Linked DNA regions of Homo sapiens: region 2 is linked to region 1. The links come from fine-mapping of genetic effects on gene expression. Tissue or cell type: whole blood. Region 1 holds a variant in brackets; the other region holds the start of a gene. All regions are shown on one strand. Distances are between the middles of the regions.

Region 1 (8,107 bases):
GATTGCCTGAGTTCAGGAGTTCAAGAACAGCCTGGGCAACACGGTGAAACCCTGTCTCTACTAAAATACAAAAAATTAGCTGGGCGTGGCAGTGTGCGAGTGAGCTACTCGGGAGGCTGAGGCAGGATAATTGCTTGCACCCAGGAGGCAGAGGTTGCAGTGAGCCGAGATGGTGCCACTGCACTCCACCCTGGGTGAAAGAGCGAGATTCTGCCTCCAAAAAAAAAAAAAAGAAGTCATCTGAAGGTACAAAACTCACTGGTAATAGTAAGTACACAGAAAAACACAGAATATTACACTGTAACTGTGGTGTGTAAATTGATCTTAAGTAGAAAGACTAAATGATGAATCAATCAAAAATAATAATTACAACTTTTCAAGATACAGATGGTACAAAAAGATACAAATAGTAACAACAAAAAGTTGTAGCAGGACAAAGTTAAGGAGTAGAGCCTTTATTAGTTTTCTTTTTGCTTGTTTATTTATGCAAACAGTGTTAAGTCATAATTAGCTTAAAATAATGGGTTGTAAGGTAATATTTGCAAGCTTCATGGTAACCTCAAATTAGAAAACATACAGTGAATACACCAAAAATAAAAAGCAAAAAACTAAATCACACCACCAGCAAAAGTCAACTTCACTAAAAGAAACACAGGAAGGAAATAAAGAAGGAAGACCACAAAACAACCAGAAACAAATAACAAAATGGCAGGAGTAAGTCCTTACTTACTAATTACTTGGACTAAATGGACTAAATTCTCCAATCAAAAGACATATAGTGGCTGAATGGGTAAACAAAATTCAATAATCTGTGGCCTGCAAAAAACACACTTCACACATAAAGACACACACAGGCTGAAAATAAAGAGGTGGGAAAAGATATTCCATGCCAATGGAAACCAAAAAAGAGCAGGAATAGCTATACTTATATCAGACAGATATACTGATATCAGTATCATTATTTTCTGATACTATGTATCAGACAAAATAGTTTTCAAGACAAAAACTGTAAGAAGAGACAAAGAAGGTCACTATATAATGCTGAAGGGGTCAATTCAGCAAGAGAATATAACAATTTTAAATGTATATGCACCCAACACTGGGGCACCCAGATATATCAAGCAAATATTAGAGTTACAGAAAGAGATAGACCCCAATAAAATCATAGCTTGAGACTTCGACATCACTCAGAATTGGACATATCTTCTAGACAGAAAATCAACAAAGAAACATCAGACTTAATCTGTACTATCAAAAACAATAGATATTTACAGAACATTTCATCCAACAGCTACAGAATATACATTCTTTTCCTCAGCACATGGATCATTCTCGAGGACAGACCATACGTTAGGTCACAAAACAAGTCTTAAAACATTTTAAGAAATGAAATAATATCAAGCATCTTCTCTGACCACATTGGAATAAAACTAGAAATCAATAACAAGGAATTTTGGAAACTATACGAACATATGGAAATTAAACAATATGCTCCTGAATGACAAGTGAGTCAATGAAGAAATTAAAAAGAAAATTGAAAAATTTCTTGAAACAAATGATAATGAAAACATGACATACCAAAATCTATGGGATACTGCAAAAGCAGTACTAAAAGAGGGAAGTTTATAGCTGTAAGTGCCTACATCAAAAAACAAGGAAGACTTCAAATAAACAACCTAACGATGACTCTTAAAGAACTAGAAAAGCAAGAGCATACCAAACCCAAAATTGGTAAAGGAAAAGAAATAATAAAGATCAGAGCATAAATTAAATTGAAACAAAGAAAATCATACAAAGATTAATAAAACAAAAAGTTAATTTTTTGAAAAGATAAAACAAAATTGACAAGTTTTTTCCCAGACTAAGAAAAAGAAAGAAAAGACCCAAATAAATAAAATCAGAGATGAAAAAAGGGATACTACAACTGATGCCAAAGAAATTGAAAGGATCAACAGTGGCTACTATGATCAACTATATGCCAATAAATTGCAAAATCTACAAGAAATGGACAAATTCTTAGACACATACAACCTATCAAGACTAAACCACAAAAGAAGTCCAAAACCTGAATAGATCAGTAAAACAAGTAACAAGATCAAAGCCATAATAAATAGTCTCTAAGTAAAGAAAAGCCCAGGACCCAATGGTTTTGCTGCTGAATGCTGCCAAACATATAAAAAGGAACGAATACCAATCCCACTAAAATTATTCTGAAAAATAGAGAAGGAAGGAATACTTTCAAACTCATTCTATGAGGCCGTATTACCTTGACACCAAAACCAAACAAAGACACATCAAAAAAAGAACACTACAGGTCAATAACTCTGATGAATATTGATGCAAAAATCCTAAACAAAACACTACCAAGTAAATTCAACAATATGATTAAAATGATTAAAAGATCATTTATCATAACAGGGACACAAGGATGGTTCAACACATACAAATCAATCAATGTGATACATTTCATCAACAGAATGAAGGACAACAGAATGAAGGACAAAAATTTTTTAGCATCAATTAATGCTAAAAAAGCATGATAAAATTCAACAGCCCTTCATGATGAAAACTCTAAAAAAAGTGGGTATAGAAGGAACATACCTTCTATACCCTAGTATCATGCCGAATGGGGAAAAACTGAAAGCCTTTCCTCTAAGATCTAGAACACAATAAGGATGCTCACTTTCACCACTGTTATTCAACGTAGTACGGAAAGTGCCAGCTCAGGCAATCAGACAAAAGAAAGATATAAAAGGCATCCAAATTGGAAAGGAAGAAGTCAAATTATCCTTGTTGGCAGAAAGCATGATCTTACATCTGGAAACACCTAAAGACTCCACCAAAAACCATTAGAATTGATAAATTCAGTAAAGTTCCAGGATATCAATCAACATACAAATACCAGTAGCATTTCTATAGGCCAACAGCAAAAAATCTGAAAAAGAAATTTTGAAAAAGTAATCTCAGCTGGGCACAGTGGCTCACCCCTGTAATCCCAGCACTTTGGGAGGCTGAGGCGAGCAGATCACGAGGTCAGGAGATCGAGACCATCCTGGCTAACACAATGAAACCCCATCTCTACTAAAAAAAAAAAAAAAAAATTAGCCGGGCATGGTGGCACATGCCTGTAGTCCCAGCTACTCTGGAGGCTGAGGCAGAAGAATCACTTGAACCTGGGAGGCAGCGGTTGCAGTGAGCTGAGATCACACCACTGCACTCCAGCCTGGGTGACAGAGACTCCGTCTCAAAAACAAACAAGCAAACAAAAAGTAATCTCATTTACAATAGCCATACATAATATTAAGAACCTAGGAATTCATGAAAGAAGTGAAAGATCTCTATAATGAAAACTGTAAAACACTGATGAAAGAAATTGAAGAGGACAAAAAAAATGGAAAGATATTCCATGCTCATGGATTGGAAGAACTGATATTGTTAAAATGTCCACACTACCCCAAGCAATCTACAGATTCAATGCAATCCCTATAAAAACACCACTGACATTCTTTATAGAAATTTTTTAAAGATTTAAAATTCATATGGAACCACAAAAGACCCAGAATAGCCAAAGCTATCCTAAGCAAAAAGAACAAAACTGGAAAAATCATATTATCTGACTTCAAATAATACTGCAGAGTTACAGTAATCAAAACAGCATGGTACTGGCATAAAAACACACACAGAGAACAATGGAACAGAAAAGAGAACCCAGACACAAATCCACACACCTACAGTGAACTCATTTTTGACAAAGGTGCCAAGAATATACAATGGAGAAAAGACAGTCTCTTCAATAAATGGTGCCAGGAAAACTGGATATCCATATGCAGAAGAATAAAACCAGACCCCTATCATTAACTGCATACAAAAATCAAATCAAAATGGATTAAAGATTTAAATCTAAGACCTCAAACTATGAAACTACTACAAGATAACATTGGGGAAACTTTCCAGGACATTGGTCTCAGCAAACATTTCCTGAGTAATATATGACAAGGACAGGAAACCAAAGCAAAAATGCACAAATGGGATCACATCAAGTTAAAAAGCATAGGATACAATCAGCAAGGTGAAGAGACAACCCACAGAATGAGAGAAAATATCTTCAAACTACTCATCTGAAACGGGATTAATAACCAGAATATATAAGAAGCTCAAACAACTCTACAGGAAAAAATCTAGTAATCTGATCAAAAAATGGGCAAAACATTTGAACAGATATTTCTTAAAAGAAGACATACAAATGGCAAACAGACATATGAAAAGGTGCCCAATATCACAGATCATCAGAGAAATGCAAATCAAAACTACAATAAGATATCATCTCACCCCAGTTAAAATGGCTTATATCCAAAAGACAGGCAATAACAAATGTTGGCATAGATGTGGAGAAAAGGGAACCCTCATATGCTATTGGTGGGAATGTAAATTAGTACAACCATGATAGAGAACAGTATGGAGGTTGCTCACAAAGCTAAAATAGACCTACCATACAATCCAGCAATTCCACTGCTGGGCACATACCCAAAAGAACGAAAATTGGTATACTGAAGAGGTATCTGCACTCCCATGTTTGTTGCAGCTCTGTTCAAAACAACCAAGATTTGGAGGCAACCTAAGTATCCATCAACAGATGAATGGATGAAGAAAAAAAAAATGTGGTACTTACATACGACAGAGTACTACTTGGCCAAAAAAAAAAATGAGATTCCGTCATTTTGCAGCAACAAGGATGGAACTGGAGGTCGTTATTTTAAGTGAAATAAGCCAGGCACAGAAATACAAGCGTTGCATGTCCTCACTTATTTATGGGAGCTAAAAATCAAAACAACTGGACCCATAGAGATAGAGTAGAAGG[G/A]TGATTACCAGAGGCTAGGAGGGGTCGTAAGGGATTGGCAGGGAGGTAGGGATGGTTAATGTGTACAAAAAAATAGTTAGAATTAATAAGACCTAGTATTTGATAGCACAACAGGGTGACTATAGTCAATAATTTAATTGCTCATTTAAAAATAACTAGAAGAGTGTAATTAGATCATTTGTAACACAAAGGATAAATGTATGCGGTGATAGATACCCCATTTTCCATTATTTGATTACTAAGAATTGCATGCCTATATCAAAACATTTCATGTACCCCACAAATATATACATCTACTATGTACCCACAAAAATTTTAAAAAAATTTTTTAAACCTGCAACTAACATTATATGTAATGATCAAAGACTGAATGCTTTTCCTCCAAAAATGGGAAGAAGGCAAGAACATCCAATCTCACTTCTTATTCAACATGGAGTTGGAAGTTTTAGTCACTGCAACAAAATAAGAAAAATAAAAGCCATACAGATTAGAAAGGAAGAGATAAAATTGTTCCCATTTATAATGAGATGATTATCTACATGGAAAAGTCCAAGAAATCTACCAAAAACACTCCTACACCTAATATATGCATTCAGCAATGTTACAGGATATAAGATAAACATACAAAATTCAATTGTATTTGTATATTCAATTGTATTTGTATATTCTGGCCATAACTACATGGACACCAACATTAAAAAGACAGCACCCTTTACAGTCAGTAGAATAAATGAAATACTTATGTATAAACCTAACAAAACATTCATAGGACATGCATGCTGAAGACCACAGGAGAGGGAGATTGGGGACACTATTGAAAGTTGTTTACTGTATATATTTAGAGATGGGGGGGTCTCACTATGTTGCCCAGGCTGGTCTTGAACTCATGGGGTCAAGCAATCTTCCCATCTCATTCCCAAAGTGCTTGGATTACAGGTGTGAGTCACCGTGCCTGGCTACATTATATTTTGAGTACTATATTATTATTTGAAGGTAGACTATGAGAGGTTAAAGATGCATATTATAAAACCTTGAGGAACCACCAAAAACAAAACACTGAGTATAATGGAGAACAAATAGAACCATAAGAAAACACAAAATCCCCCAAATCATGGAGAATGACATCAATAGCAAAAAACTAAAAACAGGCAAAAATTCCCATTTTCAAAAAGGAAAAGAACATACTTCTGCAGGGCAGACCAAGGAGCTTAATGTCTACCTAGTACAATGTTTTGGTCACCAAGTGATGTCAAGGTGTGCACATTACACCTATCATATATTAAAACAAATCACCTCATGTAACTTTGACTTTCTTCGTTGACTGCAGAAGATAGAAAGACTGTATTTTATTTCAGCAAAGTATATGGCAAGCTGTCTCACAGAAATCCTTGAAACAAGCTGGAAAACATTCCAAAAAATGAAAATGGAGAAAGATTTCAAATGTATACTGCTAGGCTCTTTCTTCAGACCTGCCTATTTATCATATTAATAACTGACTCAGATGGTGCAGGTATAACACTCTTCAAACAGGCTGGTGACATAGTCATAAAGCAAAAACAAATACATTAAATAACATAATCCAGATTCAAAAAGATACTGAGAGATTGGACTGTTTAGTTGTGCTTAGCAAGATGAAATGTAATAGGAAAAATAGGTCTACATTTGGACCCCAAATCCAAATGTACAAATACAGAATGGAGAAGACAAGGTTTAGCAGAGAGCAGGGAGGGGGAAAGACTTCGGGATATTGACAGTCAGCTCATGATGAGTCAATTACATACGAAGAATGTGGAGTGACTGTCAAAACATAAATGTATCTAATGAGAGAGGTCACAATATTGCTATGTTTTAGTCATCCTACAAGGCTCAGAGTACAGACAAACTGAAAACTGCTCAGAAGAGTAACCAGGGTCAAATGTAAAACAGATAAAGAAACTTGATAGGCACAGGGGGAGCAGATTTGGCCTGAGGTAGTAAGGTTCACAGGTTACAAGAAAGCTGTCTTTTAATATCTTGAGGTACTCTCATACGCAAGAAATATTAGATTTATTCTAAGTAGAACTAGCACTAGCAAGTAGAATGTACACAAAACAAATAGCGTTTCAATATGATTGTGTGAGCTATTCAAGGATAGAATGAGCTGCATTTAGAGTTGAGTCTCCCTCATCGATGGCCAGATGACAAATTGGCAGGAATGAAGCAGAGGGGAATAAAGCATCAGATGGCTGGTGAGACCAGGTGACCTTTAAAATATCTTCCAATTCTAGTTCTATGATTCTATTTTTCTAGACTTTCTCTATGTCAAACCTTAAGCTCCAATCCAAATGGTTTTCTCACTGTTTCTGGAACAAGCTTTACACATGTACTTTCCTGTATCTATACTTACTTCCAGGCAATTTTCTCACTCAGGCAAAGACAAAGAATTTATCTTTCTAAATCTTATCCACTCATCAAGAATGAACCCAAATATTGTCCTTAATAAAGAATTCTATGCCTACCTTAATCTGATCTCTCTCTCTCCTCTGAATAATGAAACACTTCTAGGGCCATCCTTTTGGCAATTAATTACATACCACCCTTAGACTCCTCTTCTTATGTCTTAAACTGCTACTTAACTTTTTATTAATAAGCTCTCTCTTCAGCTAAATTAAAAGCTCCTTAAAGGTAGGTCTGAAACTTATATTTTGTATTCCCTCTACATCTAGGAGAACATAGTAGATGCTCAAAAATAGTCATTGGTTTTCAATACTGGAAACATTTTTATTAGAATAGTTGTTTTTATAGGTAAATGGAAAATCTACTGTTCAACTCTAGATACTAACATATATGACTTCCAGCTCAGATACAGAACTATCAGAATGAGATGCTGCCACCCACTGATAACAAATTCTAACCAGAGAATTTTTTAAAATGGTGAATCAAGCTTGAAAAAGTTCCAATTTTCCAACCTAAACATACAGCTTGGTAAAGATGCCTTAAAACTTCTTTTAAGCAAAGTAAGACTAACAGAACCAAACTAGAGAGTAAAATATGTTACAAACAAATAATATTTTAGAAAAAAATCCTTTTTATTTCTTTTCATGTAAAATGTATTAATGTGTGGTATGTACACTAAAATTTTGATTCATGTACCTTGGAACACAGCTTAGGAAAAAATAAATGTGTCATATATATGTCATATGCAGCCCAGAACATATACTTACTCCCTAAACAGCAACTAACAAACACAGGTCCTAGACAAAGTCAAAA
Region 2 (8,107 bases), 90 kb after region 1:
AACCCTATATTCACTTACTGGTTGACACTAAGCCCAAGCCCACAAGGTTTTAAATGTATCCGTTTAAACAAACAAGAAGCTACACTCCAAGAACAAAAAGGCCAATTTCTCTTAGAAAACAAGTCCATTCTAAATTCTTGACTTCTGTCTTTCACTTTCCTCTCAGCACAGGTTAACACATTAATAACCAGCCAGTACAGAAGCATGTTTCTAACCAACCCCTTGATTCCCCTGGCCAAAAGTTCTCTTAGTCTTCCTGAATTCCCACTTAAATGCTGGTAATATTGCACAGCTGGCCTACTGTGGTTAGGTATGTGTCTTTTACTCTCGTATTAGACTACCAGGTTCCTACACTTCTTCAATAAACTCCCTGAAATCAAGACTATGTCTTGTAATTCTTTTTTTTTTTTTTTAATACCCACAAAGCTTAGCACACCTATGTGTTCAACATTTGCTAAATGTATAAACTGGTTGATCATTTTCAAGGTTTGGTGTTACCATAACTCTAGGACTGAAATTTTATTCTACAATAGAGTTAAGACATATCTAAATGCCATAAAAGAGGTTATACAACATTATTTTCTAATTTTTAAATGAATGGTTTTCCATTTATTTCCAACCTTTTGTTGGTATTTTAATTTAAAAAAAAAATTGAATGTCAGAATACCAGGTACGTTTTCCTGAAAAGCTACAGGTAATGTTTGCATATTATATTTTTTCAACATTCTAAGAGTGTCTGTTATTTAATGAAGAAGTCCTGTGATTAAAAAGTAACTTTTGCAAAGAAAACAGTCACTCAATAATTTATCCTTCGTATTATGCCATTCCTTTGCTTCTGTTGTTCTTATCTTTCCAAACCTTACTCTTCCATAAAACCTCTTCTTGTTTTCCCAACTACAATCTCTTCCATCTGCCTTATGTTATAATTATATAAATCATTTTAATCTCTGCCAGTATATTATAAATTCCCTAAGAGTGCAAATGACTTACTAATTTTTGTAAACTTTGATCAATGTGTTGAAATCATGTCACACTGGAATAATAGTAACTGCCCCTATACATCTCAAAATAGTCTGCAAGCCTTAAGGCCAAATGAATTTTTAATTTAAAAAATCATCACGTATGATCATTATTTCAATTAATATTTTAATATGTGCAGTAAAGTTTAAAAAATAGCCAAGGACTATCTTTCAGAAAAGTAATAACATAAATAATGAGAAATTTACAATATCTGTTGCATAAACCCTCAAAACATTCACTGAAGGGTAGTAAGAAATGTCTTAAAGGCAAAATAAAGTATAATAAAGCTCATACACGGGAGAAGATCATCTCTTTGAACTACCAGAGATTTGACTTATTGCAGGATAACATTTCGAAAACCTAGATCTTACACTGAAAAGAACAAAATTGTTCAAAAGGTGATGTTTTAAAATGTGATATCTACAGCTACATTTACGAAATCACAATCGAATGTTTAAGGAAACAGCTGTATACTGCCTAAACACAAGTGAAAAGCATCATAGCTTACGTGATACCACTAAAACCACAGACATCAGCTGAGATTGTCCACTACAGACTGCAGTACCATGTCAATATTGCACAAATTGGGACATCACGACATCAAGTAGTCATTCACAGCCAACCAATCACGCCACCCACCATGCACAGCAAAATATATAACACACATTTCTTTCAATTATTACACTGTCATAAACTCAAAATCCTTTTAGAACAATTCTGTTCTTCAAAGATGTATCAATTTTAGACTCTGAAATAAAGTATGTATTGTATTTTGAAAAGGTTCTCAGGCTACCATGAAACACAACATCAGCTAAGAATCATGAGTTAGTTGCAAGACAGTAGTTCCTTCTACACTATGTCTGGGAGGCCTTCCATCCATCCACTAACCCACCTACGCACCCACACACCCTCTCCAGAGCAGGCACTCTGATATTAAGAAGGAAATACTACCAAGAAAAGCCCACACAATGAGAAGTCACAAGACCTTCATTCCAAGTCCTGGCTGGTCCCCCTTTTAATCATCTGATCCAGAACTAAAGTTTCTTCATCTGATTGCTCTAAAATCAAGTGACAGGCTCCATGAAGAGGAGCTTGCTTTTTATTTTTACTATTATATTACTTTATTTTATTTTACTATTATTACTATTTATTATTCCTATATTTACAAACATAGGAACTTAAGTATTTGTTAGTTGATTATATATAGACTGCTTGAAAGCAGCTTGTTTTTTGTTTTGTTTTGTTTTGTTTTTCAATCTGTTTTTCACAAAGCCCAAGAGATCATTTCTAGTTCATGGCAAAATTAAAACTGGATCAGTGCGCTCAAAACTAAGGTAGTTAAATGAGATGGTGTGCAAAATGGGTTTGTATTTACATTTGTCAAAAGACCAAAATAACAGTGTCACAGGCAGGCATCCTAAACCACGTAAATTTTGAGTCGAATTTGGAAACCCAAAAGGACTGTCTTGTTGCAACATAAAAATGCAGTTTAGAGTAAGAAGATCAGTATGTAACAGAGGGGCCAAAGTGAGGAGTACATATAATTAAAAATAAAGTCAAAGATGGAGAATACTTGACAAGTTTACATTTCCTAACACAGCTATTAAAAACAATTACATATTCTTAAGCCAAGAGTAATATAGTAAAATGACACTTGAAGAAAATTATCCTAGCAGCGGTGTGGAGGATGAAGAAGTTATCGGACATGACAGTTTTGAAAGCTTTTATATTAATACCAATAAGATTGTAAAATAAGGTGGTGGTTAAGGATATGAAAAGGAGTAAATCTGGTAGACAGTGCAGAGTCAACTAGACTTCGTGAAACGCTGAATTAGGGAAGTGCAAGAAGATTTGAAAATGACTCTAAGCATCTGGTCACAAGTGGCCTACAGCATAACCACACCTGCACAGCACTAACAGTTCTTACACAGGCTTTTCCAGGCTGCATCTGAACCCGTTTATTTAGTTCTACATACCAGACCTGCCGTGAGACAGCACTCCACTTTAGATGGAAGCAGAAAACTACCACCACCATTCTAGCAGGAAAATATAACCAAAGATTCCAGCTTTGTTTCTTGATGAAAGAGGCCCACTCTTCTAACCCTGAGGAACTTCCTATCTGCACTACTGGGGAACAGGGAAATTTCTTCTCTCTATCCCCAAAAACCAAGATTCTCCACACACTTGAAGACAAAGCTCAGCTCTATATGAATATTTTAAGTCACATGTACATAAAACACAGATGACAAAAGGGGTCGTTCTAAACTGGAGCTAGGCCAAGTGGATTACACTAAAAAATTAAAATGGCTAAAAAGCAATCTTCTGGGGTTAATGTATCACAAAACGTCAAAAAATAAATTCTGTTCCAGAATGCACTGCTACATAATGATTCTGCAGTTTTGCTGAAGCTTTATTTTCCGCAGTTTTAAAAACACTGTTGGAAAGCAGACATCAAAGGGTTTTCCTTGTCTAAAAAGCATACCATTACGGAATTTCCAGTTTTATCAAGAAGAACAGTTTACAAAATATATTTAATAAAGGTCTGGCTGCCTACAGTTCCTTATAAGGAAGACCATGTATAAATTTCATTCTTTAAAAAAGAACTCAATTTATGGGAGTCTATCTATGAGTAAACGAAGCTCCAAGGCTTGGTTTAAACATTTCCACTCTCAAAAAGGACTGATGAGTCCAATCTCCTTGAGAAACATGTCTACTTCATCTAGCTTTTAAGGAGATTCTAAAACGTTATGTATACATACACTTTTCTCAAACAAGCACTGTTGTAAATTTTTCACATTGCCTTACTATATTAAAAAAAAGGCTACCTTACAGATTAAAATATTATCTAGGAGGATTACCAAACTACGACCTCCTGATAAATGAGACAGCTCTCCAAGCCACTGTGACTCTAACCTTTCCATTCTAAATCTTTCGGGCGCGGAGGATGAATTTTTCTATCTTTTTGTTGGAATTAAGATCCTGCATTATCAGGAGATACAGAGTCAGGCTTAAAGCCACAGACTCCAGCAGCTCCTCGCTGCCCTAGCACAGCGGGCAGGGGGAGCCAAGGCGCAGCATCGCCTCCACGCTCCGAGACCAACACCAAGTCTCTTCACCTCCACGCTCCGAGACCAACACCAAGTCTCTTCGCCTCCACGCCGAGAGCAGCTGCGAAACGGACGCTCTGGGGTTTCAGCCGCACCACCACTTTCCTCCACCGCAGACCGAAGGGCCGCCCTAGGAGGAGCCTTCTAGTCCAGTCACCTCAGGCCCGTTTGCTTGGGGTGGAGAGTGCGGTGGATTCCTAAGCCTTTCCCCTAACGGGTGATTTCCTACACCAGACGCAGGACCCACGGTCCCACGGGTCCCAGGGGGAACTAAACCCCAAGGCTGCAAAGGGGCCACGGGTGGGGCCCACCAACATCTCACAGCCTCCTGAGGAGGCGTGCGCCCTGGACAGGAGGTCCCTGCCCCCGCGTCTGGCCCCTGGTATCTTCCCCTAGGGCTCCCGGCCGCCGCTCACCGTGAAGGGGACATCCCCGACGCTGCCCACGGAGTAGCAGTTGTCTCCAGGGTTGACAGCTCCGGTGAGGACCTGATGCAGATGCATCTCCGGAGCCCGGGCTGGACAGAATGCGCGGGAGGTGCGACAAGCTCCGCGCCTGACCCTCCTCGGGCTGCGAGAGCCGTTTCCCTCTGTGCCTCCCTCGGAAACCCGCCCCGCGGAGGCTCTGGCTTAACTCCTCGCCCCCCTTTCGCCTTCCCTCCGCCTCGTCCCTGCCATGGGAGCTCCTCGACCGCCGCCGCCGCCCGGGTCGCCGCTCAGCTGCGGAAATGCCCGGATGTTCCCACTGCCTGCTGCACCGGCGCACAAATGCGGGAGGGCAAGGGTGCTTGTGAGGCGGGGGAGGGCACCGGGGGGAACGCGCGAGCCGGGAGCGTGCAGCAAGGGAGCGGGCCAGCGCGCGCGCCCACCGCGGGGGAGCGAGGTAGAGCCCTCCCCCCGCGGCAAAGCTCTCAGCTCAGTCTTTCTTCCCCCCATCACCCGCGTTTGCGCGTGCGCGCGCCGTGGTTTCCAGGGCAATTGCGCGCGCCACGCCGACCCGCCGTCCCGTGATTGCGCGCGCAGACGTGCGGGAGTTCCCTTGGAGCCTCCCGGGCTGTAGCCGCTGCGGACTGGGGCGGAGGTGGGGGCGGGGGCGAGTGGGGTGCAGGTCGCTCGGGGCCACGCAGCAGTCGGACGCCGGGGACGCGCCACGAGCCGGTTTTGCTGTGTTGAACGTATTCCAGAATACAGTGTGCAATGGTCAGTGCCGTTGACCTCAGAAGGACACCCGTCACCGGGAATTTCCACCTGGAGATATCTTAGATATCTTCAGTCTTTTCGAAAGTGCAGTACATAAGATATTTTATTTTACATAAACAATGTAGGCATCTTGCAACTATTTAGAGAAGCCATACTCCCCTGAAAGCTAATTATTTTGCTCCCACCTTTTGTCACGGTTATTCTAGACAGCAAAAAGCCGCCTTAGAGACGGGTGACTCCTTTCGACTTTTTTTCATGAGTAATTTCATGAATTAGCAGAATCGCCTGATTTTCCAAACTATCTGCTAAACTTTGAATGGTTGATAACAAGGATCATCAGCTCCCTGCCACAGGCCAATTCATGGCAAATGTTCTAACCCATACTATGCTTAAATCACAGGGTAAGGAAGTAGGGGACACCAAGACATAACTATCTGTAAAACCAGGCAGAACGCCAAAGGTGGTGTGATTGAGATATAAAAGTCTTTATGCACCACAGAAGAGGAAGAAGAATGTTGACTAAGGGCGTGGATAAGGCATTATGGAGACATAACCTGACATAAACGCTGAGTTTAATTTTGACAGGCTGAGATAGACAAGAAATGCTGCAAATACAGTACAGAAAATAGAGGGGGTGTTGAAGGTACAAAGATTAATGTTTGAGGCAGATGATTTATAGGGTAGGGAAAGTAAATAATACTTAGCAAGAGATCAAGGTATCCAAGTGGTCTAACTCTTGGCCTACCAAAACATATTATGGAGAGTCTTGAATGCTCCAAGAAGCCCAGATTTCACTCTGCATGCAGTGGGGGTATATCAGATGTTTCTGAGCAAAAATTTATATAATCAGAGCTGCTTTGGGAAGATGACTTTGTAGCATTTTGAAGCATAAAGGGAAGGGTGGGGAAGATTGGAGGCAAAGATCTGTCAGTCGTTGGTAATCTTTTCAGTAGAAAGTTGCAGGAGGAATGAAAAATAATACCTAATGACCTGCGGCATTCTCTCTCTTTCTCTCTCTCCCCCCTCCCTCCCCTTCCCTCCCCCCCCCTTCCTCCCTTCCCCCGCGCCATATCCAAGGGTTCCTTTTTGTTACTACTAGATTCTAGATGAGTCTCTTAATCTTTGACCTTCACTGCATTAGAAACCAAGTCAAAACTATCATCAAACAACAAATTGTACTCAGGTTTCCAAGAGTGTTACTAATTCACATTATTTAAACCATTTCACATTTGGCTCTTGTTTTACAGCATTCCATGAAGTTTTGGCCCATTCACACAGTTGTGAAGTTGTGAGCCTCTTTCTTCCTCTCGGTATCAAACTCAAAATCTGAAGCCTGTATCCACCTGTTCTCTTCCCTCATGAATCCTTTAAATGGCTTCTTGATAGCTGTATCTTAAGGTTGCAAATGACTAATTAAGTCTCCTGGAATTACAGCTGAGCCTTTTATTGTCCAATCTGATCAGTCAAAACTCACTCCAGACTAATATGGCAAGTTTCCTTGGTAGCCCACCAGGGCAGCTAGACCACACTTTTGACTGTCCACAATTTCATCTCTTCCTTGTTCATGCAAATTTTTTCATGGACCTAAAAACAAATTGGAAATTCTTTCTTCTAATTTTGGAAAGGGCTTTCTTTTAAAAATTAGAAAAAGTAGCAGTTTTGTATCATTAACAAAATATGCTAATCGAATTGTAAGATATAATTTATCATGTCCACAACTCTTTTTTTTTTCTTTTTGCTTTGATTTGAGATCCCAACACAACTCTTAATAGTACCTTTGGGGTTGGGTTTAATGGCCCATTGAATGTGTGCCATTAAATGTGGGACTTAGTTTCCCAGCAGTATCACCTACCGATGTGTACTAGTTATCAATTACTGTGCAATAAATTACCCCAAAATTTATCAGCCAAAAATAACAGTAGAGATTCATTACCTCACAGTTTCTGTGAATCAATAATTTAGTAGTAGCTTAGCAGGAAAGTTCTGGTTCAGAGTCTTTCATGAGATGGCAATCAAAATGTCAGCTACATGCTAAATAAAAGAAGCTGGACACAAAAGACCACATAATTCGTTTGTATGAAATCATTTGTATGAAATTTTCTGAAAAGACAAATCTACAGTCACAGAAAATAGGTTAGTGGTTGCCTGGGGCTGAAGGTGGAACTGAGAGTGACTGCTAATGGATATGAGGTTTCTTTTTGGCATGAGATAAACATTCTAAAATTAGATTGTGGTCATGGTTGGGCAGTTCTGTAAAATTACTAGAAATCATTGAATTGTATACTTGAAATTAGTGAATTGTATGGTAATTAAATTATACTTTCAATAAAGCTATCTAAAAAAGAAATAGCCAGGGATACAGTCATCTGAAGTCTTGACTGAAGTTAAAGGCCCTGCTTCCAAGATGGCAGGCTCTCATGGCTAGCAAGTTGAGCCTAATAGATAGATGGAGGCCTCAGTTCCTATGTGTTCCTCTCCATAGTGCTGTGTGAGTGTCCTCAAGACACGGCGGCTGACTGCTCCAGCAGCAAGTGATCCAAGAGAGAGACCAAGGTAGAAACTGCAATGTCTTTTATAAACTAGCCTTAGAAGTCACACGCCATCATTTCCACCATATTTTATTGGGTGCACAGGCCAGCTATAACTTAGTGTGGGAGACTATTTCCCAAGAAAGTGAGTGCCAGGAAGGGAGAGTCGTGAGCAGCCATTTTGGAGGTTGTCCACTACACCACGGAACTCAAGGACTTTATCTTCAAGAGTCAAGGGGCAGCCAGGCGCAGT

What was found. PIP is the estimated chance that this variant, and not a neighbour inherited with it, causes the effect.
Region 2: DMXL2 starts here. The variant in region 1 is fine-mapped to the expression of DMXL2 in whole blood (TOPMed, PIP 0.95).

What each region holds. Positions count from the first base shown.
Region 1 is chr15:51,527,505-51,535,611 of GRCh38, forward strand. The region is part of intron 13 of DMXL2 (Dmx like 2); the gene reads right to left. Among named protein-coding and RNA genes, the nearest start is that of DMXL2, 91 kb to the right of the region's middle. The variant G/A (reference allele first, on the strand shown) is at 4,859.
Region 2 is chr15:51,617,916-51,626,022 of GRCh38, forward strand. DMXL2 (Dmx like 2) reads right to left here and starts at 4,856. Exons shown (of 44, transcript NM_001378457.1): 1 at 4,544-4,856. The coding sequence starts at 4,630. LOC105370816 (a long non-coding RNA gene) reads right to left here. Exons shown (of 5, transcript XR_932236.3): 4 at 7,260-7,371; 5 at 6,769-6,910. RefSeq lists an enhancer at 3,994-4,403 and a silencer at 4,774-4,993.